Homo sapiens: one gene and its partners. The protein of the gene in region 3 interacts with the protein of the main gene of each other region in a biochemical or structural test. Each region holds a gene or a part of one and is shown on either strand. Other genes may lie near its edges. The genes, in order: AMTN, ENAM, FAM20C and CALU.

The links.
Region 1: of the proteins of FAM20C (region 3) and AMTN, one has a biochemical effect on the other in vitro, tested with the Homo sapiens proteins (one study listed by IntAct).
Region 2: of the proteins of FAM20C (region 3) and ENAM, one has a biochemical effect on the other in vitro, tested with the Homo sapiens proteins (one study listed by IntAct).
Region 4: of the proteins of FAM20C (region 3) and CALU, one has a biochemical effect on the other in vitro, tested with the Homo sapiens proteins (one study listed by IntAct).

What each region holds. Positions count from the first base shown.
Region 1 is NC_000004.12:70,513,609-70,521,724, forward strand, and holds the start of AMTN (amelotin isoform 1 precursor), read left to right. Parts: upstream 1-4,960; 5' UTR 4,961-5,046; intron 5,047-5,154; 5' UTR 5,155-5,169; coding exon 5,170-5,223; intron 5,224-8,116. UniProt on the Homo sapiens protein: Is a promoter of calcium phosphate mineralization, playing a critical role in the formation of the compact, mineralized, aprismatic enamel surface layer during the maturation stage of amelogenesis.
Region 2 is NC_000004.12:70,631,744-70,639,050, forward strand, and holds part of ENAM (enamelin isoform 1 precursor), read left to right. Parts: intron 1-105; coding exon 106-150; intron 151-907; coding exon 908-949; intron 950-2,564; coding exon 2,565-2,825; intron 2,826-4,088; coding exon 4,089-4,151; intron 4,152-5,967; exon of another isoform or gene 5,968-6,046; coding exon 6,047-6,100; intron 6,101-7,307. UniProt on the Homo sapiens protein: Involved in the mineralization and structural organization of enamel. Involved in the extension of enamel during the secretory stage of dental enamel formation.
Region 3 is NC_000007.14:244,410-251,716, forward strand, and holds part of FAM20C (extracellular serine/threonine protein kinase FAM20C precursor), read left to right. Parts: intron 1-2,005; coding exon 2,006-2,098; intron 2,099-3,905; coding exon 3,906-4,021; intron 4,022-7,307. UniProt on the Homo sapiens protein: Golgi serine/threonine protein kinase that phosphorylates secretory pathway proteins within Ser-x-Glu/pSer motifs and plays a key role in biomineralization of bones and teeth.
Region 4 is NC_000007.14:128,756,054-128,763,360, forward strand, and holds part of CALU (calumenin isoform a precursor), read left to right. Parts: intron 1-2,817; coding exon 2,818-2,984; intron 2,985-3,738; coding exon 3,739-3,799; intron 3,800-7,307. UniProt on the Homo sapiens protein: Involved in regulation of vitamin K-dependent carboxylation of multiple N-terminal glutamate residues. Seems to inhibit gamma-carboxylase GGCX. Binds 7 calcium ions with a low affinity.

The DNA of each region.
Region 1 (8,116 bases), on a different chromosome or scaffold from region 3:
AGAAACTTCTTATGACACCACAAAATACATACTGACCTTCCATTTGACTTTGAAACTACACATTTTCTCGATTGTGTCTACAAAACTGAAAGTAACTGCCCAATTGACAGTATCAACTCAAAGAACATAAATTCCCAGCACCTTCCTTACCCTTACCTAAAGCGTTATATTGTCGTCCAAACACTGAAATCATTAATTAATTCCTCACACTAGTACTGTATCTCTTACCTTCCCTTCAGCATCCTCATCTGTTGCCCATTTGCAGGGTGTTCTTTCCTATTTTAAATATCACACCCAAGCTTTTTTTTTTTAATTCCATAAGTGTGTAATTCTATTGTTAAGTTGAAATATTTCTACATAGGCCAGGTGCAGTGGCTCATGCCTGTAATCCCAACACTTTGGGAGGCTGAGGCGGGAGGATTGCTTAAACCCAGAAGTTCAAGACCAGCCTGGGCAACAACATGAAACCCGTCTCTACAGAAAATTAGCCAGATGTGGTGGTGCGCACCTGTAGTCCAGCTACTTGGGAGGCTGAGGTGGGAGAATCACCTGAGCTGGGGAAGTCCAGGCTGCAGTGAGCCAGGAGAGCCAGGATAGCGACACTGCACTCCACCCTGGAAGACAGAAGGAGACATTGTCTCAAAAAAAGAGAAAGAAAGAAAGATGTCTACACGGACAGAATACAAAGTTGCCACACTCTTGCAAGCTTAACCCTATTTCATGAGTAAATTCGGTATAATATAGCCACATTTGTAATGACATTGTACACTGAACTTTATCACTTATGACAAAGGTCAATTCAATCTGCCAAGAAGTCTGAACATAGTTTCCTGATACCCCCTCTGGCAAAACTTTAAAAGATTAGTAAAAACCTATATAGTTTGATCTATTTAGTAGAATTTCAGATATGTTTAATTCAGTGGCTGTTTTTCGGGCACCTACTAAACTACTCCATAGAGAAGTTGCTCTACTTCTGGCCTCCAAGCGTAAGTCCGGTTTCCTCTGGGGACTGGTTGACAATTTTAAATACTTTTGTAAATTTATAAAGGCAAACAAGTCAATTCAATTCAACCCATATTTATTGTTCTATCACATACAAGCTGAGAGCTAAAGAAAATATCAAAACATATAATCTTCCTTGAAATTTAATATCTCAAAACAGTAATCAAATAACAATGGCATCAGGTGAGGTAGAATAAAATAAATAACAAAGTCATGAATTCCAAAAGCATCTCAGAGAAAGAAAAGTCTAACTCCAAATGAGAGGAACAAAAAGAAAGGCTTCATGAAGGTGGTAGCATAAAGAAGGATCTTTAAGGGTGAGTAAAACATTGACAGTCAAGGATGAAAAAGAGGACTCCAGGCAGAGGAAATAACATGAACGAATGCAGAAAAAGAAGATCAAAATGCATCTTTTCTAGCCTCTTGTGCATACATCCATTTTGCCTCTACCACATTATATAGTGATATGAGACTTGCTGCATTTTCCACAAGAACATAAATAAGGGCTTCCTCTTACTCACTTTTGTACCCGAGCACCTTGTACAATACCTTGTCCAGTACAGTGGAGGCTTCTGTTTAGTAGGTATCAGGGATTGCCATGCATCAAGAAATGCTGAATGTCGTTTACAATTATCAAGGTACTTAATTTGTTCAATCAAGCTATTACTATAATTAATGATAATCTTGTGCGCAGAATCCTTTTAATGTTGTGAGTTACCAAGTGGTGTAAGGAAATATAGAAAATTTCCAGTCTGTTTTATCCTTTCATTGTCAAAAAGATGCTCTTAGACTGAGATTCATAAAGAGTGCCTCAGGTCTGGGTAATCCTAGATCTTCCTATATCCATTGAGTGTGATGGAGTTGGAGAGAGGGTATGTTTCTTGCCTTGAGAAATCCTAGAAAGCACAGGGATGACACAAATCACTAAGGAATTCCACTAAGACTCCTCTAACCCAGAGATTTTTAACCTGTTTCTTTATAGTTGGGCTCTCAGGAGATCCATGAAATCCCTGAAGTTATTTCATAATCATTACATTCATAAGCATATATGCATTTTTCTGAGGAGATGACATGTGCATTCAATCAGCTTCTCAAAAGGGTCCATAACCCAAAGAAACTTACAACTAAAGCTAATAAGAAAGATTAAGGAATGCCTGGAACTAAAGGGCTAAGAGATGTGTCCTATAGTTCATAAAACACTTTAATGAATTCTGATGTTCTATGTCATTTTGGAAACATAAATTATCTCACTGTTTTTGCTGATGTCTCCTTGTCTTGGAATGATTTAAGAATTCTTTTCCTTTTATAATATGTATTTCTTGACTCCCAACTCCGTAATCACATTATTGCAAGTTGTCTGCTTTCAGACTTAAAATTTCTTGCCTAAGAAATTACTCAGTGTTTTTAATTTTGCTTGTTTATTTTGATCTAATCCCACTGACTGCTCAGTTTCCTGGCTAGGGCATGTCCGATTCCCGCTGAGGGTTGGAGTCATGTCTGCAACAAGCAATTGACTCACTGTGAGGTCCCTAAATCACCTGATGCCCAGTCACGAGGAATTATTCAATTCAAATAAACTATTGAATAGAACCACATTCTAGACTAACACTATAACACAGGTCTCCTCACCTAAGCCAAGAACAACAGTGACATAAAATTCAACTCTACCTCCACCCAAAAAAAAAAAAAAAATATATATATATATATATATATACGTATATATATATATACGTATATATATACATATATATGTATATATATACATGTATATATATACGTATATATATATATACGTATATATATATATATATATATATATATATGACGCTCCCAACCCTCTACATTCACTGAAAATAATGCCCAAATAAAGTAGATGCCCAGTGTCACGGAGTCCCTCTCTTGCAATGACCTGGTTGAATATTTCATATTCCCCCAACAAAACCTAAGCTCTTTAAGGGCAGGGTTTTTGTCCCTTCCATTAATTGTTTTATCCCAGACACTGACACAATGTTGGTGAACAAAGAGTGAATCTATGTTAAATGAGAGCTGGAAAAATGAATTGATTGAATAAAAGAAACAATGAATTTGCCTGTGAAAGCCCATGAGAACCTAAAGTTGCTTTCCTTCCACATCCTTCAGCACTATGTCTCATTGCTCCTCTCACTATCAGCCACTTTAACATGCTAGTCTGTCTTGTGGATTATACTTATTCTCCAAATCCACCTAAAGCCCAATCTCTTCTCTAAAATCTTCCCTCAACTCAATCTTGCTCTGTTTCCCCACAGTATATGCCTTTACCATTTATTCGTCAACATTCGATGACCATATGATGCTTTAAAATATTACAAACATGAAAGACAAGAAATATAAGATGCGGCCCCAGGAACTCTCCATCTAGTTCAAGAGAAACAAAAAGTCAAGAAATAATAAAAAAGCCATATAAAGTAATATCTGACCAAGTGCCAAAATCAGTGATAGAAACAAACCAAAAAAAGCTATAGGTAGTTAAAATTAGATATCATCTCCAACCCTGTCTTCCACTGCTATCCTCACCCCATCTTGTTCCAGTGACAGAAAGCAATGTCACTACTTCAAATCTAGACCTTTGATCAGCCTGGGTGCTCTCCTTGCGTTCTTCATAAATTTTTTTTTTATTCTTCAAATCCAAACTCAAGGATGATCTCCTCTTTTAAGCTTTTCCTGTCCTTTTGCCCCCAACAAAATTCACCACACTCTTTCTTACACCTGAATACTCCTATATTTGCACATACTTGTTGATCTTGTATTTCTCCTCCTACATAATGTTCCCCATTCCTAACAGAGTATCAGAGTAACAAACATTGATTATATAGATTAATTGAACAGTTAGAGAGAAGCTTTGAAAAAAAAATGTATCATCTCAGTTAATTTTCCATTCATAGACACTCTATAGGTTTTTTTTGTTTTTCTTTTTTAAAGGTCAAATCCCAAATCCTGGTGCGACACAGGCTCATCATTGAAATGGTCTCAGAAATTGATTAACAGACCTCCACCTCCCTTTGGGGCATATCTCAAAAATTCCAGGTGAAGCCCACAGCTTCATGGTAAAATGTTAAGTAGCACTTAACTGTTCTTCTTGTAAAAGAAATCTCAGTTGATTCCCTGTGTTTTGCTTAGGTTATAGTATCATTTTCCCTGTTTAATATAAAGCAAGCCATTCACCATTTGGCCATAAATGTACATATCCTCTGATACATTACTTAAATGTACATACCCTCTGATACATTACTTAAATGTACATACCCTCTGATACATTACTTAAATGTACATATCCTCTGATACATTACTTAAATGTACATATCCTCTGATACATTACTTCTAAGAATAACACCTACGAAAATACTCCCATATGTGTGAAAAAAAGGTTTTATAAGAATGGTGCTTGTGATACCTTTGTAATTACAAAATAAACTGGAAATGGATTAAATGTTCATCAAAATGTGATATAATGATGTGTACCCATTAAATAAATAAAATAAACCTGTATGTACTAACACATAAAGTTGTCCATTATTTGTTAAGTAAACATAAGTTCCAGAGCAATCTACATAGTAGACTTCATTTTTTAAACCTTGTACAGAGCCCTATATTTTGATGTTTGATTTATGTATTCATACTTACATGATAAAACACGTACATCTGAGAAATCATTTGGGAAGAAGAAGGAGGTGAAGAAGCATTTAAATTATTTTATTGTCTGCATCTTTTTTTAATTACATAAGGCCTGTCTCCTTGAAACACCTTCTATTCAAATGGTAGACATTGGGTAACATAATGTCTGCAGCTAATAACCCACCTAATGAAGTGTTGGGAAATGAAAAAAAAACAAATGATTTAACAGACAGCTAAATCCTGATTGGTCTCTCAGTTTCCAATCTCCTGGAACTGAGTTTAAATTTCTTCTACAAACACATACATCATTGAAGGGTAAAATTTTTCACCAGAGTAAACTTGAGAAACCAACTGGACCTTGAGTATTGTACATTTTGCCTCGTGGACCCAAAGGTAACATTAATTGACCATGTTTCAAGTAGAACTTTTGTTTTTAAAGTATCATTTTCTCTTAAAAGGAAAAAAAATACATGGAAGAGTAACACTTTTTTGTTGTTGTAGGTAGCAATCTGAAACATGAGGAGTACGATTCTACTGTTTTGTCTTCTAGGATCAACTCGGTCATTACCAGTAAGTATGTTATGTTTGTTTTATATGCCAGCCAGTTTCAACAGCATCTCTAGCTGCAGACCTACCTCTCTCCTGCCCTCCATCAAAACTGCTCTGTTTTGTGACTCATTCCCTGAGAGTGTCCAGTGTTTATTTTCCAAGACAGAAAATGACAAGCTAATAAGCTGTTGGTACATATTTCAATGTACTTGCATTTTTTTAAATGCATCCACTCCATCGTGGTAAAAGGTCAATTATTTTGGCAGAGCAATAGGCTAGAAATTAGGAGAAAAATGAATGTGTTAAGTGGATGATTATTTTATTTTCCAAAAAGAAGTTTTTTCTTGGCAACTAGTTATTTGCTCATGAATAAAGAGGTGAACTATATTTTCTAATTTTTCTACTTGGAAATGCTAAATATCTAGATTGTATAAATTCTAAAAAGACCACCAAAACATATGATATCAAAGGCATATGATTAAAATGATCAAAATTTTTGACTTAGAACATTAAATCATAAATAGTATTCACATATAACAGGAAAAAATTAAAAAGCCCTATAACTCCAACATTTACTCCATTATTTTGTAGACATAGGGATGAATGGTTTGGATCTCTAGGTGGACTTCTCTTTGACTGTTCAAGATGGTTCAAGACCATTAAGAAAAAAATTACAATATACTTGCTATGAAATAACAGAATAAAAGAAAGCATACTTAGTTGGGCCTCAAGCTTACTCAATACTTCTGCATCCATTCGTACAATCAACAAATATTTATTAAAAACTTTCTATATGCCAGACATTGTGCTAGGTGCTGAAGAAACAATAGTGAGAAGGGAAAAAAAGGCATAATCCTTCATGGTGTTCACAAGGATTGTAGACATTAATTTTTTTTTTAACTTTTTTTTTATTTTTACCAATGTCACTTGCCAATTTTTTTATTTTTTACTCAAATGATTTTTAAAGAAATGTTAAATTATAAATAATAACTGTGATTATTTATGTGAAGGAAATGAACAGGGTGGGATTATGCGGGGGGAGGATGAAGCAAGATACGGTAGCCAACCTCCTTCTTACTTTATCCCAAATACATACTACATACGTGTGTGTGTGTGTGTGTGTCTGTGTGTGTGTGTCCTCCTTGAAAGAAGTTGTCTGTAAAAGTTTAATTTTCTAAACAAGGTAAAGTATGAAGTTAATTTTTTTATAAAACAAATGGTTCTTTCACTTCGTCAAATACATTGACCGAAAGATTCTTCAAAATAGTTTCTCTAGTATATTTAAATTACCACATAATTGGTGAAAACTCAAAACAAGCAAAACTTTCCAGGAGTGCAGCTCTCATGTGAGGTGGGCTGAGGTGGAGCAGGCCGGCTGTGCAGGCCACAGCAGATTGCTAATAGACAATGAGAGCAGCTAGAGAGCTAGTGGGGCAGGGCAGCAGGGAGGCGACACTGAAATGTCTATTCAGTATGGAAACAATACCAAATGAAACATCACGACACATAGACAAGGTATTTTTTATTATTTGTAAATGAATGTATTGAGTTAGCATAAAGGTAAAAAGAGTGAATCCATTTGCAAATGTGGACACATACAACAGCCTAGCAATTATTTTCAGTAGATCAAAATTTTGAGGATAGGTACCAGATGGAAAACACAATGAGTAGAAGAAATAAATACAAGACAAATCAAATTTACAGAAAGTGAAGGCTCTAGAAGAAAACAAGATTTTATTCCTTCAACAACTATTTATTGAGTTCTTACTATATGCCAGACATGGATTTATCTTTTTGAGATGGATCATTGAATAAACCACAGTGAAGTCTATATTTTAGCAAGGAAATAAATGATAAATGGTGAGCAGTCTAAATCAGTAGGTCACATGACAGGTTAGGAGATAGTGAGCACTATGAAAAAAAGATCCCAGAGCAGGGTGAGATGGAGCAGGCTGGTGGTGCACAGTGGAGAAGGGGCAGGCTGCATGTTCAGGACAGCAGTCAGGTTTGGCCTCAATAAGAGGGAAATTCAAGTAAAGAAACAGGTGAGAGAGTAAAGCCAATGTTCAGGGAAAGAACATTCCAGACAGAGGGAACAGGTGGAGGTGAAATTCTGAAGCAGGAATGGACTTTACCTGTTGCAGAAACAGCAAAATGGCTGGATGGCCAGAGCAGAGTGAGGGAGGGGAAATGAGGTAGGAAAGATCAGAGAGCTACTGGGGGCCCAGAGCCCTGTAGACCACTGTGGGGTCTCTGGCTTTTACTCTGAGTGAAATTGACAGTCGTTGGCCAGGCACGGTGGCTAACGCCCGTAATCCCAACACTTTGGGGGCCAAGGCAGGCGGATCACTTGAGATCAGGAGTTCAAGACCAGCCTGACCAATATGGTGAAACACCGTCCCTACTAAAAATACAAAAAATTAGCTGGACGTGGTGGTGTGCACCGGTAATCCCAGCTACTCAGGAGGCTGAGGCAGGAAAATCATTTGAACCTGGGAGGTGGAGGTTGCAGTGAGCCAAGATCACTCCATTGCACTCCAATCTGGACAGCAGAACAAGACTCCACTTAAAAAAAAAAAAAAAAGAAGAAGAAAAGAAAGAAAAGAAAAAAAATTGGTAGTCATTGCAGAGACTGAGAAAAGAAGCAACAAGATTAGACCATCATTTTCACAGGGTCACTCTGGCTACTATACTAACAATAGATTGTGGGAGATGAAAAGACTTACTTACAAAATTTATATATATTATATATATGTATTTTATGTATATATATGTATATATAATCTTAAAGCTGAAAGGGACCTCCTAGAACAGATAATACCAACCTCTCTTTTTTTTTTTTTTTTTTTTTTTTTTTTTTTTTTTTGTGAGACAGAGTCTCACTCTGCAACCTCTGGCTCCCGGGTTCAAGTGA
Region 2 (7,307 bases), on a different chromosome or scaffold from region 3:
TATTTTTTAAATGTTAGCTCTTCTCTTTGTGTTCCGTTAGGAACAATTGTTGAGCTTATTTCAACTGATGTTCTGCATTTGTCACTGACATTCTCTTACTTCCAGATGCACATGCCCCGAATGCCTGGATTTAGCAGTAAAAGTGAGGAGGTATGTACGTTCAGTCTCAGAGGAGAAGTTATCCAGAGTCCTATCCTACACATTTACTAAAAAGGAGAATATTGGAAAATTGTCTCATATATAATATTTCTTATGAAAAAGGTAAAAAGAGGGAGATTTGAAAGTCTTAAACTCTCAAATCGAGGCAAAGTAGTAATTTCCCCAGCCATCAGCCTACCTATGTACTTCAGTGTTCCTTTTCAAGGTAGATGTGGATTTGTGTTAAAATCTAGTTGATGTTACCTTATCTGCTAAGTTTTTTAGCTAGCAAAAGTGACCAATTGTACCAAGGGTTATTAGAAGGTAGATGCTTAAAAATAGAAATACCTTTCACATGACTCATATCCCAGATCATTAATCAAATTCAATACATATCAGAAAGATGAATCATCTTGTCACATAATTCTCATGTTCTCAAATCCTGAACTCAAAAAGAATAGAACAGAACATTCAAAAACTTTACAGTAGATCAGACTTTTATTTTCTATGATTCTCTATTGATTATTCTCAAAATAAAATTCTGACTTAAAAGTTAAACTGCCTGAGAAGCTTCTTTAATTGTATACTTTCTTAAAATTCAAGCATAAGTAGGAAAAGGTGATATGACTGTTGTGCATTAAAATCAGAAATTTTTACACTGGGAAGTTCTAAGGTTAAAAAAAGAAATTTTACTTATTTCTTACGATTTGTGCATTGATTTAATAAAAGTTTCACTTTGTATCACATTAATGGATTCCTTTGGTTGCAGATGATGCGGTATAATCAATTCAACTTTATGAACGGCCCACATGTAAGTTTTTCTTTATGTTATTTCTGATGATTTCTTGTTTATCTAGATAACTCCGTTATAAAGTTTGCCTTAGTCAATAGAGACACCAATCCACATGTTTTAAGTATAATGTAATCATTACAAAAGTTTCAAGGTGGAAAAATTATTGCCCCTATCCTCTCACACCAAATTTTCTTCTTATTCATTACTATTGTTCTTTCATGTAAATCAAAATAATTATTAATGAGAAATGTTATTTATTTGAGACTGAGTCTCAAATGTATAGTCAAGAAAAGATGGTTCTGGGAAAATATCACATAAGATGTCACAAATAATGACAATAAAAATAACATAGTAAGTATTGGTGGGGGGTAAGTTTTACTTGGATTATCTTGAAAGATAACACTACAGTTATGAAGCAAGTTTTATGTTATTTAAATAAATATAGGTTATTCTTGTCACTGTATGCTAATTGTCAGAACAGACAAATCAAGTATCAGGTGGTTCTTTGGCACAATTTTTCTGATAAAATTGTATGTTAGCATAATAACACTACACATCACTTTTGATTTCCATGGAATGATCATGAGGGCCATTTTGAGGGGAAAATCAAGGACTACATCCATTTTTTTGTAACCCTTTTTATCCAAGTCATTCTCTTTTAAAGCTCTTTGCCTAAAATAATCATTGTAAATTTCCTCTTCCTCAACTTTTGATTGGCTCAACTTTTTCATACCCCTGTTTTTAGTTTTAGTGACTTTACCTGTGATTTGAAATTTTTACCAACTTAGTTGTCATGAAATCCTGTGTCTTAGTGCAATATTTGCAATTTTGAATTTCATCAATCCACAAAGCGTGGGTACATCATCTAATAGATAGCAAGAGACTAATTAATGAAGACTGGGTATAGAGACAGGTGTTAAACCAGGGAGGAAATATTTGAATGAGAACTGATGTTGCAAGACTGATCATTCATAAATTATCATAAATTTAGAAATTAGCATTTTTATAAATTATCATAAATTTATAAATTAACATTTTTAGATTATAACTACTTTTGCTTCCCTGCCCAACTTTGTAATTGTGGTGATTCTGATAAAAAAATGGATTTAATGAGGATCCACCTGTAACCAAGAACCATAGACACCATATAAGTGTGTTTACACAGACTGAATTTTTATCCTCTCTTTTCCTTTTTTTCTTGTTTTTTATTTTTTGTTTACAGTCTCACTTCCTTTATCTTATTTTTGTTTTTTCTCTTCTTCATCCAGCCTTATAACAAATCACATGGGTTCTGAATACGACATTAAATCTTCTGTAACCTGACTTGTATACTTCTGACCTGAGTTAGGGTTTCAGAGTTAGAAAATCATCAGTCAAATTCTTAAACTGAGATTTCCCACCTAATTCTGCCTTTTGGTTTGTTTTGGTTGTTTGGCTTTCTAGAAGACGGAAGTTCATTCTGTAAGACAATGTGTAAGGAAATTCTAACTAAAGATCTGGAAGCTTCCATAGTTAAGTCAAGTTCCAGGACTTTTAAGCTCTTTGGCTGAGTTTTAGAGGCTGACATTAGAGGATGGAGACAGCCTGAATCACAGCTCTATTATGATTTCACTATTATTTGCTACCCTTTCAGATGGCACACCTGGGGCCCTTCTTTGGAAACGGTCTCCCTCAGCAATTTCCACAGTACCAGATGCCCATGTGGCCTCAGCCACCACCCAACACATGGCATCCACGGAAATCCTCAGCACCCAAACGTCATAACAAGACTGATCAGACCCAAGAAACCCAGAAACCCAACCAGACTCAGTCAAAAAAGCCACCACAAAAGCGGCCTTTGAAGCAGCCATCACATAATCAACCTCAGCCCGAAGAGGAAGCTCAACCCCCTCAGGTGAGACTTGCACAGAAAAATTCCATATCTGTAAATGGCCTCGGAGAGATTTGGAGGGCCATGCCACCCCCATATACACACTTCAATACAGGTACTCTGTTGCAATACCAATGTTTGTTTTGACATGCATCCAAAACTGCATGGCAAGTCGACTCCAATCTTGTTTGGTTGAAATTACCCAAATACTGTTGCCTTTTAAAAGCTCCTTTTAAATTACAGAGACAACATGGTGTAATAATATGAGCACTAATCTAACAGTCGAGAATCAAAGGTTCAAGTCCTATGCCTGGTCCTTATTAGTTGTATGCTATTGAACAAGTTACTTCACCTTTCTAGGTTCCAGTTTCCCCATGAGTAAACTAAATAGTTTCGAAGTTTCATCCAAATCTGTGCTTTGATGCTCTAAAATATTGCTCTTAAATTAACATTGCTTCCAGTACTAGTATGACATAAGGTAAGAAGATGTGCAAATGGTTTCTCAAGATCTCATCCAGTGTGGAGGGAGCTTCGAAAATACTGGCTTTTAGGCCGGGCGTGGTGGCTCACACTTGTAATCCCAACACTTTGGGAGGCCAAGGTAGGTGGATCACCTGAGGTCAGGAGTTCAAGACCAGCCTGGCCAACATGGTGAAACCCTGTCTCTACTAAAAATACAAAAAGTAGCTGGGCTTGGTGGTGCGTGCCTGTAATCCCAGCTATTCAGGAGGCTGAGGCAGAAGAATCGCTTGAACCCGGGAGGTGGAGGTTGCAATGAGCCAAGATCACGCCACTGCACTCCAGCCTGGGCAACAGAGCAAGACTCTGTCTCAAAAAAATAAAAAGAAAATACTGGCTTTTGGTCAGTTAACACTTATTATCAGACACTATTACAGACATAGGGAGTACCAAATTGAATGAAAAGACACTCCTGGATTGGAATCCTGGCTTCAGTGATTTACGAGCAATGAGATTTTGGGCAAGTGACCAAACTTCTCTGAACTTCATGGTCTTAGTAAAATGGGAATAGTAATAGTTTATATCTTCTATGGTTATATGAGGATGAAATGAGTTTAACAATATAAAATGCTCAGCACAGAGCCTGGAATGTGTGTCCAATGATACTAATTGTTATTATCATTATCGTCTTTGCCCTATAAAAAACACAGAGTTTAATGCAAAGGGAGATGTAGACTCCCAAGTTTCAATTGTATTTAGTTAGTTTCCTTCATTTTTTTATGTATTCTTTTCAATACCACATCACTCTGATTCTTTCTTTCTCTCTAGGCATTCCCACCATTTGGAAATGGGCTATTCCCCTATCAACAACCACCATGGCAAATTCCACAGGTGAGAAATTTTTTTTTCTTTACACTGTAAGTGAAAAATAATATTAGTATGTTATAATTTAAATTAATATAAATTCATACATTCTAATGGAATACCATATACCAATCAGTAGATGGTATGAAACAAAACCAGTGCATCAGTAATCATGCAGAAAAAGAATAATTTTTTGAATTTCATACTCAGACAAATTGGTGACATAAATACAACCTAAATCACCAAACAGATACTAATAAATTAGCTAATAAATTAATTTTAAAAGGTTGCACTACTTCATTACTATTTCCCCACATCCTTAAGAAATTTTTAAAAAACACACAAATTATCTTCATTTAATGTAATGGGGAAACTGGGACACAGGACAAAATGGAGTTTGAAAACCACAGGGTGAGCTATGATTAGACATTTTCATCCTATCTTACTGTTTCTAGCCACAGATATATCATTATAAAGAATCTTGGGGCTGGGCAAGGTGGCTCACGTCTGTAATCCCAGCACTTTGGGAGGCCGAGATGGGTGATCACTTGAGGTCAGGAGCTCAAAACCAGCCTGGCCAACATGGTGAAATCCCGTCTCTACTAAAAATACAAAAATTTGCCAGGCATGGTGGTGCATGCCTGTAATCCCAGCACTTTGGGAAGCCGAGGCAGGCGGATCACCTGAGGTCAGGAGTTCGAGACCAGCCTGACCAACAAGGTGAAACCCCGTCTCTACTAAAAATACAAAAATTAGCTGGGCATAATGGCAGGCACCTGTAATCCCAGATATTCAGGAAGCTGAGGCAGGAGACTCACTTGAACCCAGGAAGCAGAGGTTGCAGTGAGCCGAGATCGTGCCATTGCACTCCAGCCTAGGTGACAGAGCGAGACTCCGTCTCAAAAAAAAAAAAAAGAGATCTTGCAAAATATTGTTTACAAGAAGCCTCAAAGAATCTTAAACGTTTAAAATCATTAAAATAAAAAATAATATTGAAATTGCATCATAGGCATTAAAAATACGAATGGCAAAATAAACTTTTTGAACTAAAGAAATGTTAAAGGCCAGTTGCTGCTAAACAAACAAAACAACAGGAAATATTTGTTGACTGTTCATTCAGCTATGACATAGGTTTTCCTTGTCTACAACTCTATTACCAAGAAGGCTTTTTATCAGTGAGGAACAATTCATTTTAAGGAGTAAGAGTTCCTTACATTTTTCCTCCTTAAAAGAGTGACTTCCTTTTACTGGCTATGCTGAACTAAGGAAATTAAGGCAGTACAAGGTAAAGATTTTAAAAACAGATAAACATGATTCTCATGCTGAAGTAACTATTAATCTCATCTACATAAAACTTGAGAAGCAGAAACTCGGCCTCCAAGTTTGATTAGGAGAATTAACTTTAGTCAAATAAAAATATCATAGTAATAATTCAAGGATTGTCAGTTTGGAGTTTGTCCCCCTAAACATGAAGCCACATTCTAAAAATAACATCGTTACTTAATCTCTATTATTAGATGTTCTAATATGGATACTTGGATTCTAACAGCACTCAAATTTCTCTCTCTCACCCTCTCTCTGTATGTGTGTGCATGGTGTGTGTTTGTTGGGGGTTGTGGAGGGTATGTTTTTGAGTGTTGGAGGTGGTAAGGAGGATTGCCAACAGATGCAGCCATACAGAGTATTTTAAGTAGGATAATCTAGGATCCAGCTGAAGCCTTTGTATTTACCAGTATTCACTGTTAGATCATAATTCTTAGCAGCTGGACTGTGAGAGCTAATAACTCAAACGCTAAAAGCTCAGAGTACTAACTGAGCTCAATCATTGACTTGAGCTATTTTTAGACACCCTGAGTCTTACAAACAAATGGCGGCATCGAACGTGGTTTTCTCCTGTGTTCACTGTGTTTTTCACTTCTCAGAGGTTACCACCACCAGGTTATGGACGCCCACCAATCAGCAATGAAGAAGGGGGGGTAAGTACAAGTAAAACTACATTCTCCACTAGAAATTACAATCCATTCGCCCCTGCTTTTTTATCCACATCTAATAAGAAAGTTAAAATCCAACACATGAACCTGTAGCTCAAGCTTCCGTGATTTTTAGAAAATAAAAAAGTTAAACAAATCAAGCCAGTGGTCCAAAGATTGATGGTGGACTCCAGACAGTGATAAACAGAGAAAGAAGTAAGAGTTTCTTAGAATGTTATCCTCAAGAGGAAATTAAGTGATCTCTAACTTCCTGATTATATTAATACAAATAAATTGAAGCCAAGAAAAGATCAATTACTACTCAATTTCACTTTTAAGTTACTGGATAAACTGAACCCAGAACCCAAGTCTTCTGTTACTCTGCTCAATGGCCTTTTTACTATACCACACTAGGAGAAGAACCAAATGTATATCACAGAGTGATATACTCTTAATATTCCAGCTCTATGTCATCTAAAAAGTCATTTTAGTGATTGTGGCATAGCACCCCACCCCCCTGGAGCTTACTTCTTTTTCCCTAAATATGTGATATGTCCTCAGTGAACTGTGGTAACTTAATAGCTTGACTGGAGAGTGGGCGACAGATTGTTCTTTTTTTTTTTTTTTTTTTTTTTTTTTGAGACAGGTGGGAGATCACCTGAGCCTTGGGGGTGGAGGTTGCAGTGAGCCATAGCACCACTGCACTCCAGCCTGGGTGACAGAGCGAGACTATCTCAAACAAAAGAGAGGTTGGCATTACCTGCTCTAAGAGGTCCCTTTCAGCTTTAAGATTATGTATATATACATTTTGTAAGTAAGTCTTTTCATCTCCCACAGTCTATTATTAGCATGGCAGCCAGAGTGAACCTGTGAAAACAATAGTCTCATCTTGTTGCTCCTCTGCTCAGTCCCTGCAATGACTGCCAATTTCTTATCTTTCTTTTCTTTCTTTCTTTCTTTTTTTTTTTTTTGTAAGACAGAGTCTCGCTCTGTCATCCAGGCTGGAGTGCAGTGGCACGATCTCGGCTCACTGCAACCTCCACCTTCTGGATTCAAGCAATTCAGTTCTCATACCTCAGCCTCCCGAGTAGCTGAGATTACAGGTGTGTGCCATCACACCCGTCTAATCTTTGTATTTTTTTAGAGATGGGATTTCACCATGTTGACCAGACTAGTATCGAACTCCTGGCCTCAAGTGATCCAGCCACCTCAG
Region 3 (7,307 bases):
GACTGCAGCGGACCATTTGGTTTGACCTTTAGTGTTTTAGAAAAATGAAATCCATTTGCCAGCGCTTAAAACCCGGGAGATTCCACAAGGTCTAGATTCTTTCTCTTGAACCTCAGGATCCCGGCCAGTCTGGGCCTCGGCTCTGCAGGGCGACCCTGGCGGGCAGCATGTTCAGTTTGCCGCCATACCTGCCACTGCCCTGCCCTGCACCCCAACCCTCCTTTGCTGCTGGTTTCAGAAGTGCACAGAGATAGCAATGGCCACAGACCCAGTGGGGTTATGAAGCAAATGTGACCTTCAGGCGCCAGCCCACCATCCGCATTTTATTTTTAAGTAGCTCCTGGAATCCTCATCTGGCCTTGCGCCTACCCAGGGCCCTGTCAAGGCGAATATTATGTGGGATCGTGGAAAGTGGTCTGTTCTCAGAGTTTCTAGCAGCAGAGACTAGTTCTTAAAAAGGCCGTGGGTGGTACACATCTTTAACCCCCCATAAGAAACGTTCCGGGAACACGGAGAATTGTGGCCACAGCTTTCTGAGAACAGCGTGGGAGGACGGGAGCCACGGGCTGGTGTGTAATTGACGGCCTGTGACCCAGACGTGGTCCCCCCGAAGGGACGTGGACATGACATACAGGACCTGTGCCCCACCCCGCTGTTCGTGTGGCGATGATGTCGGCCCGTGGCAGGGCCAGGATGCTCCCAGGAGTTGGGCGGACCTCCGCTGCGTATATGGAAGGAAGGACCCGGCCGGGGAAGCCGAGGGCTGGGAAAGTGACCGGGGCGGCGTCTGTAGTCTGCATTGCTGGAGTGTTGGAGCCCAGACGGAACACAGTCTGCCCTGAGTGGGAGGTGTGGGCTGCAGGGCGTGCGAGCTGGGGATTCCCGCCAGCTCTGGTTTCCAGCACCTGGAAAGGTCACCAGAGTTTGAATCTGGTAAATTCTTCCTGGATTGGGGGCTGAGTTCCCTCCCTGGGCCTGGCATGGGAGGACATCCTGGGACGGGCTCTCCTTCCAGTGGAGGCAGGGGCCAGCCTTGGTGGAGGAAGCCTGGGTTGGAGGCTGAGTTCCCTCCCTGGGCCTGGCCTGGGTGGACGCCCTGGGACAGGCTCTCCCTCCAGTGGAGGCAGGGGCCGGCCTTGGTGGGGGAAGCATGGCAGGGGCCGGCCTTGGTGGAGGAAGCATGCTTACACGCTTACACGCTTACGCGCTTACACACTTATGCTCAGACACGACCTTGACAATTCCTCCACGTTTCCACCATGACCACATCGGTCAAACACTTGCGTGGACCGGCACCTCACAGGGCCCTGCGGCTAGGCTCCCCTTCCCCTGGAGTATTGGCCTGAGATACAGGAGCCCTATGGTGTTTACAGAATGGCACTGACCTTTCATAAACAGCCCCACCTGTGGCCTCCTGTCCCTTGGCCAGGGTGGAGGGACAGGGCGGTGCCCACATTGCCCTTCTTGGGCTCTTACTGTGGGAGGCGTCCACGGCAGAGCCAAGGGGTCCTGGAGGCCGTGGGGGAGACTCGGAAACCAGAGGGTGGGCGGTGCCAGGGTGCACACAGCAAACCGGGGCTGAGCCAGGCCTGGGACACCGAGCCCAGCCTCTCCCCTGCGGTGTGACTGTGGGTCCCAGGGTGGACGTGCCGGGGCCCCCAGCCAGTGCAGGAGAGGCCTTTGAGCAGCTTACCTGAGAAGGGCCCATGGGGAGCTGGGACCTCCGGCCTCCGTCGCAAGGGCCTGCGCTGCTCTGAGGGCCCGTCGGCAGCTGGGTCAGGGCCACGGGGAGCTGGGACCCCCGGCCTCCGTCGCACGTGCCTGCGCTGCTCTGAGGGCCCGTCGGCAGCTGGGTGCCCAGGGTCCCGAAGGCTCAGGGTGGCCCTGAGGAGGCTGGAGCTCCACCGCATTTTTCATATGAGGAACCCAGCACGTCCCGCCTGCCTCCGGCCCCTGGAGGCTTTCTCAGTGACAAACCGTTTCTGTTTCTGTCTTGTTTTCTCAGACAAACGAGGGAGCAGGAGACACCCCCTGACTTTTTTTATTTCTCTGACTACGAGAGGCACAATGCGGAGATTGCTGCCTTCCACCTGGACAGGTGAGCCCTTCCTTCCTCCCTCCATCCGCGCTCCCGTGCGCTCAGACCCACCGGTGAGTGAGGCCGTCCTGCACTGGACACAGCAGGACGTCATCGTCACCTTCGTCACCATCAGGCAGCGCCGGTGCCTGCTCTCCCCCCACCCCGAGTGCTGCCCTGAGCAGGGTCCTGTATGTCATCGTCACCTTTGTCACCATCAGGCAGCGCCGGTGCCTGCTCTCCCCCCACCCCGAGTGCTGCCCTGAGCAGGGCCCTCTGTGTCATCGTAGCCCACACAACACGCGGTAGGGAGAGCCTTTCATATCCCCCTTTACAGATGAGAAACTGAGGCTCTGTGAGCGGCGATTTGCCCAGGTTCCCACGCTCCTAATCATCCCTCTGTCACCGAGGGAGAGGGCGCCTGCCCTCAGGGCACCTTAATCCAGATGGGCCCCTCCTGCACCCCCACAGTTCAGGCAGATGGGAGGCACAGAAGCTGCTGTGCGGTCGGTAATAGAGGAAAAGGAAAGAGGGAAGGAGGCAGGGAGGGAAGGGGGAGTATTAAGTGCTGCGAATCTTAACACAGAGACTCACAGAGCACAGGCTTCTCTGGGAGACCAAAGCAGGCTTCCTAAGGAGGGGGAAGCGATGTTTGTGATGAGGGGGCCTGGGAGGCCCCACGGTCGCCTGTCTCCAGAGGGGCCGCCCCAGCCCAGCAGAAAGTGAACCCCTTGTGAGGGTCAGCTTGGCCCTGCTGCTGGGAAAGTGGGGGGTCCGTGTTCAGTGCCCTCCAAGGGCAGTAAACGGGCCTGGCCCAGGTCCAGAGGGGCCCCGTGGATTGAAGGACCTTGCCCTGGTGCAGTGGAGGGAGGAGGCGCCACCCTCAGCCCCCAGAGCCTCCCTGCCTGCCCTGCACGGCCCTGACACGTCCCAGCCTGGGGTGCGGCCCCAGGGCCGGCAGCATTGGGGTTGCCCTGGGCTAGTTGGAATGCAGAGTCCTGGGCTCCACCCAGACCTGGGACAGAATCTGCATTTTAACAAGATCCCTAGTGACGCGGGCGTACATTGGAGTTTAAAGGGCTTTTTTAAAGATCAAAGTCTTCTGTGGTGACTATAGAAATCGCCAGAAGCCAGATTTTCCACCATTTCAGCTATCTAGAACAGCCTGAACCCAAAAAGGGCTTTTTATGAAAAGAAAGACGGGGAGGGTCATTAGGAAACAGCCCCCCTCGGGTCCACCTGTTTATAAAACAGGACACAGAGCCCAGCACCCAGGCGAGCCGTCTGACAGGTGGAGGGGGAGGGTGCTCCACGCAGAGGCGTGGTCGGGCCTTGGGTCCCGGGTCGGCCCTGGCAGACGGCCCACGTCCCTCCACACCTGGTCACCTCGCCTCACAGGACAATCACCACGTCCTCCGTCAGCAAGAAAAGCTCTCGCCCTGCATTCTCCATTTAATTAAGCGAGTGGGAGCCTGTGGTGTGGTTCAGAAGGAGTTCCATTAAAAGTGGCTCCTTTAATTTAATTTTGTTTTAAATTTAGCCCTGGAATGAGGGCAGGCTTTAGCTATGCAGGCAGTTGGTGCTGTGTGCCCATCAGTGAGGCATCGCCAGCCCCAGTCCCTCAGGGGCCTCTCCCACCCCCATCACCGTGGGGCCAGGCAGAGCCACCGGACCTAGGGCTGGGTTTATTCGGAGGCAGGGACACAGAGGCCCGCTGAGCCGCACAGAGCACAGACCCTCCCCTGCCCCGTTCTTATTTGGAGGCAGGGACACAGAGGCCCGCTGAGCCGCACAGAGCACAGACCATTCCCCGCCCGTTTCTTGCCAGGATCCTGGACTTCCGCCGGGTCCCTCCCGTGGCCGGCAGGATGGTCAACATGACCAAGGAGATCCGGGACGTCACACGGGACAAGAAGCTCTGGAGGACCTTCTTCATCTCTCCAGGTAGCCTGGCACGGGGGCCCGCATTCATCTCTCCAGGTAGCCTGGCACGGGGGCCCGCATTCATCTCTCCAGGTAGCCTGGCACGGGGAGCCCACATTCATCTCGCCAGGTAGCCTGGCACGGGGGCCCACATTCACCTCTCCAGGTAGCCTGGCACGGGGGGCCGCATTCATCTCTTCAGGTAGCCTGGCACGGGGAGCCCACATTCATCTCGCCAGGTAGCCTGGCACGGGGGCCCACATTCACCTCTCCAGGTAGCCTGGCACGGGGGCCCGCATTCATCTCTCCAGGTAGCCTGGCATGGGGAGCCCACATTCACCTCCCCAGGTAGCCTGGCACGGGGAGACCACATTCATCTCGCCAGGTAGCCTGGCACAGGGGCCCGCATTCATCTCTCCACGTAGCCTGGCACGGGGGCCCGCATTCATCTCTCCAGGTAGCCTGGCACGTGCCCTGTGCCCCCTTCCACACCAGGGTGCTGACTCACAGTGCTGTTCCCAACCCACCTCCCACGCAGGGGTGCCCTGTGCCTCCTTCCACACCCGGAGTGCCAGCCCACGGACAGCTTCAAGGTGCCACCATCAGGGTTTAACCAATGTCCTTCTGTGCACAGAGAGACTGTTTCTTCCATTTCTTTGTTTATTTTAACTGGTGAAACGATTCACTTTTGGGAGGTCCTAGCCTCTCCAGGAAGCCTTCTCCAGGTGGCCCAGCCAGCAAACATCCATGGGACCTCCCCACTCGGACTTAAACACACTCAGCAGGACCCCCGTTGTATAGTAACAGGGTGGGCGGCCTCCCCCGCCTCGGCGAAGTGGCTGGACTGTGAGCAGGGCTGGCCCAGGCCCCTGGTCCCTGGTGCCCTTGAGGGGATACAGGATGGCCTGAACGTTAGGCAGGAATAGATGTCTTTGTTGGTGCTGAGGTTTATAAAACCTTCAAGACTCTACGTGATAAGTACAGCGCACACATAAACACATGATTTTCTACTTAATTATCTACCCAGGTTGCTTTAAACCTGACATTTGGGCTGGGCGTGGTGGCTCACGCCTGTAATCTCAGCATTTTGGGAAGCCAAGGTGGGAGGATCACTTGATTTCAGGAGTTTGAGACCAGACTGGGCAACGTGGTGAGACCCCTGTCTACAGGAAATTAAAAAATTAGCCAGCCGTGGTGGCGCTTATCTGTGGTCCCAGCTACTCAGGAGGCTGAGGCAGGAGGATTGCTTGAGCCCAGGAGGTGGCGGCTGCAGTGAGTGGGGGTTGCACCACTGCACTCCAGCCTGGGCAACAGAGTGAGACCCTGTCTCAAAAAAAAAGAAAAGAAAAGAAACTGGCATTTGTGGCTCTGCCGAGGGCTCAGTCCTCCTCTCCAAGCGCCTCTCTGGTACCAGGCCCCTGCTGCACAGCCTGTTCCCATTTCCGATGCTCACCTGGCTGAGCTCTGGGGACACTCTCCTACCTGTCCCGGACTCGGTCCCCTATGTTTCCATCTTGAAGGTCAAGAGTGGTCCCAGCGATGGTGGGCCCTGCAGAATGAAGGGACCCTCACCCCAGGAAACCCTGCAGAGCAAGGTCCCCACTGGGGAGGGGCCCTCCGGATCGGAGGCTCTCACTGTAGGGGGCCTCAGCCACTCTCCTGGCCCATCTGTTTAATTCATGCAGATAAAATCCAATTAGGGCCCCTGATTAGCTGCGTCTTCAGATTTGCTGGCACATAAAACCTTGACCTAAAAGCTCATTTCCTGCAGATGTTTCAGATCGATGTACGGACTCTGCGCTTTCTCTTAATGCATTCATGAATTTGTCAGAACCCGGCCCCCGAATCCATGATTTAATTAAGCTCCGTTCCGTCAGCCAGGGCTCACCGAGATCCTCATTTGCTTTCTTCCTCTCAAAGCCCATTAATAAGAGAAAAATAGGACAGAAAGCTCCACAGAGGCGGGAAGAAGGGCTCCCTTCCCTGGCCCACTGGTGCCTGGCCCTACACACCAGGAATCGGGGCAGAGGCAGAACCTGAGCGTGGGGGTCTTTGAGGGCTCCCCGGTCAGCTGTGCCTGAGCCAGGCACACCTCCAGTGATGGGGAACGCATTGGCTCACAGACAATTCAGTCCCTGTTTGGATGGCTTGAGCTGTCCATCTTTTTTAAGGGGCTGAAACTCGCCTCCCCACCCTGGGAGTCCAGGGCTTCCTAAGCACGCCTGAGCTCCGGCCGCTGTCAGCCCTTGGGTCGACCCTGACCGCACTGTCCAGCCACCGCCTCCTGCCCCACCGTCCACAGGACTGACCGCACTGCAGCCCGCCATGCACACCCTGGTGCCCACGGAGGCTGGGCTCCGCTCCAGTGATGCCTGGATGCCCGACTGCTTCTTATCCACGTCTTTTTACAATTTTTATTGCAACTTTTAGGGTGATGTATTTCAAAGGTTCCAAAGACTGACATTCCCCATCCTCAGGTGCCAGCGCCCCATGCAGTGACTGTGGGAATTCCTCCAGCTTAAACTCCATTCTCTGCATTGCAGACCAAGCTCTCGGTTCAGGACCGATTGAAAGAGACGGTCACAGGGTCACGCAGGGAGGGGTCAATGATGCCCACTGATGCTGAGAACATGCCCTGCCTGGCTCTGCTCAGAGCAGCATCTCCGGAACTCCTCATTTTGTTGTAAAATGAGCCTGTGGGGGCAGGTCGTTTCCTCCCCGTTTCTAAGGTCTTACTGAGTGGCCGGGCACGGCGGCTCACGCCTGCACTGAGTGGCCGGGCACGGCGGCTCACGGCTGCACTGAGTGGCCGGGCACGGCGGCTCACGCCTGCACTGAGTGGCCGGGCACGGTGGCTCACACGCCTGCAATCCCAGTACTGGGAGGACCCCTTGAGCCCAGGAGTTCAAGATCAGCCTGGACAACGTAGCGAGACCCCATCTCTACAAAAAATGAAAAATTAGCCAGGTCTGGTGGCATGCATCTGTGATTCCAGCAACTCAGGAGGCTGAGGCAGGAGGATGGCTTGAGCCCAGCAGGTCTAGGCTGCAGTGAGCTATGATCGGGCACCACTGCACTCCAGCCTGGGTGACAGAGTGAGACCCCGTCTCAAAAAAAAAAAAGACTGAGTTGATTATTAGTCCAAGCAGGTGAATTAAGTCACCTCTATGTCCCATGTTGGCTGACACTTGGAATCCCCAGGTCCTCAGCAGGCCAGGGACGGTGGTCACCGGAGTGCCCCTGAGCTCTGTGCTGCAAGGCGGCCATCGACCACCTTTGGTGCCGTTGCTGGAATCCCTTCTCACGT
Region 4 (7,307 bases), about 130 Mb from region 3:
GCCAAGAACCAAACATATCCTTCACCCAATTAAGAACACATGTATTAAACAGTCAGCACAGATGGAGAGGCATCCTGCTTCTTGCTCTGGCTGAGACCCAACACCTTCCTGATTTATTTGGAATTAATGATAAATACAAAGCAAAGAGTAGGCTATTGGTGATCTAAACAAAATGGTGTGTAAATAAATCTCAGCTCCGACCTAGGCACTCACTTGCTGCCCAGAATGATTCTTCGGTGCTGTGTATGATTATGTGCATAAAAATCTGTTGAGAGCTCTGTTGCCTCACAAGGCAGATGATTCAACGTAATGGGTATTTCTGCTGCCTGAGACTGCATAAGCTGAAGCACTGGCTGGGAAGCAATGTCTTTATAAGGCATCTTTCCCCAGAGGCATGAGGGTGGACAGCACTGAGGGGGTCATGAGTCGGCTTAGAGAAGTGAGGAGTTTTTGTTACTGTGTGTTCTTGATTCAATTTGGAGTTCAGGTATAAATCATCATAGCTCTTAGTTAAAATCTGTCTCAATGAATCCGCTATCCATGAGAGAAAGGTTAACACTGTCTCTGCCACAAGGAAAATATGAAATACTGAGATCTACCCTGCCTATAGCAAAACTAGATCAAGAGCCTACCTAAAGCTGTATACAGGCCAGCTAGGGCCAAAACTGGTGCTTAGGATAAATACAGCATTCCAAGCAGAGCTATAGGAAAATAGGTTTTGTCATTAAAAATAAAGTTTTGGACAGGCACAGTGGCTTATGCCTATAATCCTAGCATTTTGGGAGGCCGAGGCAGAAAGGTTGCTTGAGTCCGGGAATTCGCGACCAGCCAGGGCAACAAAGCCAGACCCCGTCTTTACAAAAAAAATATTAAAAATTAGCCAGGAGTGGTAATACTTGTCAGTAGTCCTAGCTACTTGGGAGGCCGAAGCAGGAGGATTGCTTGAGCCCCAGAGTCCAAGACTGCATTGAGCTATGATTGCATTGCACTCCAGCCTGGGCCACACAGAACAAGGACCTGACTATAAATTAAAAAAAAAAAAAATTGTATCTTCCTGTTTCCCTCCTTATATATATATGTGCATGTTGCTATTAGGCTATTTGAGTCCAGTCACCATTTTTACCTTTTACCCCAAGGAGGGGAGGAGAGCACTTATGTAAGAATCTAGTCTTAAAGTATAAGTTGTCTTGTTATGTTTCTTATTTATGTTACATAGTCCTGAAACCTTGTTTAGAAGAGACACTTTAGTATCTGAGAAAGGCTTGTTTGCCTTACGTTCTCCATCTCAACCTATTATGGCTTTGAGTGTGTGTGTGTGTGTGTGTGTGTGTGTGTGTGTACACAGGATCCCAAAGCCTTATGACTCGTTAAGCTGTCTGACTGAATTTTTGACACTCAATAAAAAATGAAGCTTCAAAATGCTCAACTCTCAAAATAGTACAGTAGTTTTGTTTTTGTTTCTTTAAACTGTGCTTAAAGTATGGAAAGACTGAACAATCTCAAAGGTCAGCAGTAATGATGTTATTCTTAAAGGGGCCCTGTGGGTCTTTTTTATAAAAGCAGTGTCATATCCTTTTTATGTAATCAATATGTTGCAGGAACAATAATTTCTTACCATTAATGTGGTGTCTTTTACTTTTTAAAATATCTTCATGTCTGTTATCTTAATTTGGTTTATACAGGAACGCAGATTGAAAAAGAATTTTATTTTCTGCAGTTAACGCCACATTTTTTCAGCTTAAAAAACTAAATTTCACTTTTCTATATTCTTATATAGAGACTAGATAACTGCTGCTTGTGTAGCTCGATGTCATAACAGATGGGTAGTTCCAAATTCAATTTGGTTGTAATCTAAGGGTTTTTTTTTTTGTATACCTTTGTCAAGTTATTATTGACATAAAGTGAACTGTATGTATTTAAGTGCATAATTGATGAGTTTTGACGTATGTATTTACCAGTGAAACCACCACTGCAATCACGATAATGAGCATATCCATTACCCCCCCAACATTTCCTCATGTCCCTTGGTAATCCTTCTCATTCTCGCCATTCCCCCGTCCCTAGGCAATCACTCATCTGTTTTCTGTGACTCTAAGTTAGTTTGCATTTTCTAGAATTTTACGTAAATGGGGATGAACAATACCTGTCACTCTTGGTAGATTTCTGCGTTGACTGAAAAAAAACAGAATGTGACCTTCAAAGTGGTGGCATTCTATTGCTTGAATCCAAGTGTCCATTATGTGAGGTAGAAGGCCTTTGATTTCTATCTTTTTAATGAGATCCTAATGTTTAATAAAAGTAGCAATAACTGACATTTGTTGAAAGCCAACTATGTGCCAGGCATTGTTCTAAGCACTTAGATATATTTTCTCATTTAAACCTTACAACAATCCTATGAAGCCGGCACCATTGCTAGCTCCATTTTACAGATAAAAGAGACCAAGACACAGGCCAAACAGCTAGAAAATGGTAGAGTTCAAACTCAGGCAGTATGGGACTTGAGAGCCACCACTGCCTTCCAGATGTAACTAGAAAATTCAAGCCTTCTAGTAGCCTTAATACCAATAGTGAAGCATAACAGTGAGTTACATAGTTCAGGAGCCAGAGTTCCATGTGAACTTGGAGCTGACTCTGAGATCTGATGCCTGGAGCTGTAGCCCAAAACTAAATGTCTTTGTACTGCTGCAGTTTTACCTGTGTCATCAATTATTTCTTCCTTGCATGGTTTTATCTTTATTGGAAATTGATTTCCCACCCCACACATTTTCATGTTTTCTGAAAGTCTTTTAAGATTTGACCTAAATTTTTGTTTTCTAGATGATCCAGATCCTGATGATGGATTTAACTATAAACAGATGATGGTTAGAGATGAGCGGAGGTTTAAAATGGCAGACAAGGATGGAGACCTCATTGCCACCAAGGAGGAGTTCACAGCTTTCCTGCACCCTGAGGAGTATGACTACATGAAAGATATAGTAGTACAGGTGGGTGAGATGAAGGATTCTGAACAGGGACTCAGTTTCTCTTTTTGTGGCTTATTCTGTCTTTCCCCTTTAGCCTTATATAGCATATCTTATATATATATATGCTATATAGCATATCACTGTATATGCTATATAAGTATTGGCCAGATTCAGAATCCAAGGTCTGTCACTGTTTTTCTGTGACCTTGATCAAGGTGCCTTGGGCATTCTGTTTAGTATGATAATACCTTCTGTCATATAATGTATTTTGCCATTTCATTGGTAGCTTCATATTGTAAGAATGGGGGGAAATCCCATTATTTAAAATATCCCATGACCAATAGTCAGACATTGAGTAATAACAGTGATACTAAAGAACTCTCACAGAAGGCAGTTACTGACAACATAGACTATCTATAGCTAAACACATAATCACTGGTCACATCTCCTGTTAGTGTGACTTTAGCATGACTAAGGCTACCAGGTAGATCATCATGGGCTTGATGGGATAGTTTGTCATTAAGCAGTGTCAGTGTTCTGTCAGGAAGACTCAGTTATTTTAGATTGAAGCATAGGAAATTGCTCATGTTTTACCATTTCTTGGCTAGAAATGGTTTTAACCATACAGACACACATGCATACATACATACATACATACATACATGTACAAGTGTGTTTAATGAATAATAAATGTTTACCTAAACTAGATACTTTACTTTCTTCTGGCAAATTCAGAGACCAACTTAATAGTCTCTTCTTATTCTTTCCTGTTTAGGAAACAATGGAAGATATAGATAAGAATGCTGATGGTTTCATTGATCTAGAAGAGTATATTGGTAAGTCTCTGCTTTTAGTGTTTTTCTTAGAAAAGCTGAGAAGCTTTGAAAGGTGTATTTGCTGGCTGGGCACAGTGGCTCATGCCTGTAATCCCAACACTGGGAGGCCGAGGCGGGCAGATCACCTGAGGTCAGGAGTCCAAGTCCAGCCTGGCCAACATGGGGAAACCCCGTCTCTACTAAAAATACAAAAAAATTAGTTGGGTGTGGTGGCGGGCGCCTGTAATCCCAGCTACTCAGGAGGCTGAGGCAGAAGAATCGCTTGAACCCAGGAGGCGGAGGTTGCAGTGAGCCGAGAACACGCCATTGCACTCCAGCCTGGGCAACAAGAGTGAAACTGTCTCAAAAAAAGAAAGAAAGAAAGATGTATTTGCCCATAGAAACAATTTACTCCAAGGGTCAATTCTCACTAGCTCATTAGCTGTCACCAGATCATTAACCAGACCAGTGTGATAGTGGGTTGTGATAAAGTATCCGTAGCCACATTGCCCAATCAAAATATAAATGTGAGCCCCATATGTAATTTTAACTTTTCTAATAGCCACATTAAAAAGTAAAAAGAAACAGATGAAATTTCAGTAGTTATTTAACCTAATATTCTAAAACTCTATAATTTCCACTTAATGTAAATTATTGAGGGTTTTTTTTTAATACTTAAAGCACATCCCAGCCACATTTCAAGTGCTTAATAAGCACCTGTGGCTACCATCCTCAACAGCACAGATATAGTGTATCCTGCATGCTCTATGGAACTGATGGTAAAGAGTTGCAGGGGGCTGGGCACGGTGGCTCACGCCTGTAATCCCAGCACTTTGGGAGGCCGAGGCGGGCGGATCACAAGGTCAGGAGATCGAGACCATCCTGGCTAACACAGTGAAACCCTGTCTCTACTAAAAATACAAAAAATTAGCCGGGTGTAGTGGCAGGCGCCTGTAGTCCCAGCTACTGGGGACGCTGAGGCAGGAGAATGGCATGAACCCAGGAGGCAGAGCTTGCAGTAAGCTGAGATCATGCCACTGCACTCCAGCCGGGGCTACAGAGCGAGACTCCGTCTCAAACAAACAAACAAAAAAAAGAGTTGCAGGGAGCCCAGACTGACATAGGGAAACCCAGGGAAAGGAGATAGGGAATAGATTAAAAGATGGATAAATAAATGACGGGGAGTTGCTGATCCCTCTTGTAGCCATTCCTTTTTACTGTGTTCTGTTCATATTTTCTCTCTGATTCTCTGACTACTTTCCTTTTGTTTTTTAAGTTTCTCCCTTTTGACATTTCCCTTTTTAGTTGTCTAAATTTTTTTAAAAAAATTGTTTTGGATGTCACACCTTCAAGGCTAATTTCTCCCAAGTAAAGCTCTGTTTTATTATCATCAGACTAATTTTAAGATATTCTCATTGCTTTAAAAAAAAAAAGCTGTCTTTCTTACCAAGTAGTTGAGCAAATTGTTTCCCAATTACTGTGACAGAAATTAAAATGAGTAAAGGAGCTGGGTGTGGTGGCATACCCGGTTACTTGGGAGGCTGAGGCAGGAGGATCACTTGAGTCCAAGAGTCTGGACTATAGTCACAAGTTCATCATCAATATGGTGACCTCCTGGGAGCAGAGGATCACCAGGTTGCCTAAGGAGGAGTGAACCGGCCCGGGACAGAATCAGAGCAGGTCAAAACTGTGCTGATTAGTAGTGAGGTTGTGCCTGTGGATAGCAATTGTACTCCAACCTGAGCAACATAGCGAGACTCCATCTCTTTAGAAAAGTGAGTAAAGATGGAAAGTATAAGACTGTTACTACAAATGTCATTGTTACAAATACTTTGTTTAGAAAGATATTAGATATTTTAATATTTCACATACTTATTGTCATTTGTAATAACTTATTCTAGCACACCATTGGTTTTGTGTTTCAGATAAGCCCGTTTGTTTTTAGACCTCTGATAGTTACCTGAAATGTTTATTTGAAGCCTGAAAGGAAGACTTAATCCTTACCTCTATCACCTGTCATTAAACTGTATGGAGCAAGTCACTGCTTTACTTAGATGTTGTCTTATCATACCTGTTGTTTACATGCTAGAGTTATTCCAATTGAATTACTCCTTGACTGTTTACCTCCCTTTTCTTAGGTTCAGTGGCATACTTTGAACTTTTTAAAGAAGGATGAGCAATGGAAGATAGGATGGATGTTTTCCTAAACTGATTTTTTTTTTTTTTGGAGAAGTTTATCAGGACAGTGGATAAGTGCCTAGGTGCATTTACTGAGCCCACGTTGATGTTACTAGGGTTTTCTACTTTTAAATGATTTATCTTTTTATTCTTGGCTTTTGCCATTTTATTGCCATTGCTAAAACTGAGGAACTCATTTGAACCTCCCAAGGAGAGGAATTTTTATAACTGTTAACTACATCACTTATCAAGCATTGAGGCCAAATAAGGAGATATTTCTGTCTCCCTGTGTATCATATAGATTCAAGGGCAGAGGAGTTATATTTTGAAGCTACCAAAACTATCTTGTGCATGTGTGCTTTTTTTTTTTTTTTTTACAAGTCAGTAACTAATGCAAACACTTTTACATCTGGGATGCTGGGCTTTGTAAATCTAAAATTCTCCCAAACAGTATCTTTCAGCTTCTAGTGCCCTGTTGAAGGAGATCATGAAGAAACAAAGTTCTTCGCCTCATAAATTTAGCATTAAAAAGAAGCCCCATCAGTGCCTGTGGAAACATAGGGAAAGAAAAAAAAAAACACCCAAAGTTGTGCTGATAATTATTTTTATTTTTAAAATTTATTATAGAGCATTGCAGACGTACACAACTTATTTGTTTATTTATTTATGTTTTTTTTGAGACAGTCTTGCTCTGTCACCCAGGCTGGAGTGCAGTGGCGTGATCTCCACTCACTACAATCTCTGCCTCCCAGGTTCAGGCGATTCTTGTGCCTCAGCCTCCTGAGTAGTTGGGATTACAGGCATGCACCACCACACCTGGCTAATTTTTGTATTTTTAATAGAGGCGGGGTTTCACCATGTTGGCCAGGGTGATCTTGAACTCCTGGCCTCAAGTGATCTGACCACCTTAGCCTCCCAAAGTGCTGGGATTACAAGTGTGAGCCACTGCACCTGCCCCCAAATTAGAATAGTATAATGAATCCCCATGTACCTATGCCTAACCTCAACAACAATCAACTTACAGCCAGTTTTTTCTCAGCCACATCCACTTCCTTGCTTCCTTCTTACTTTGAAGTAAATCCCAATCATTATGTCATTTCATCTGTAAACATTGAGGTATATATGTCTAAAATATATATGTGTTTCTAAAAACATTTTTTTAAAGATAATGTCAACCCAAGAAAATTAATAATACCTTCAAATCATCAAATAGACTGAGTCTTTTAAAAATAGAAATTCGGCCGAGCATGGTGGCTCATGCCTGTAATCCCAACACTTTGGGAGGCTGAGGTGGGCGGATCACAAGGTCAGGAGTTAGACACCAGCCTGACCAACCTGGTGAAACCCCGTC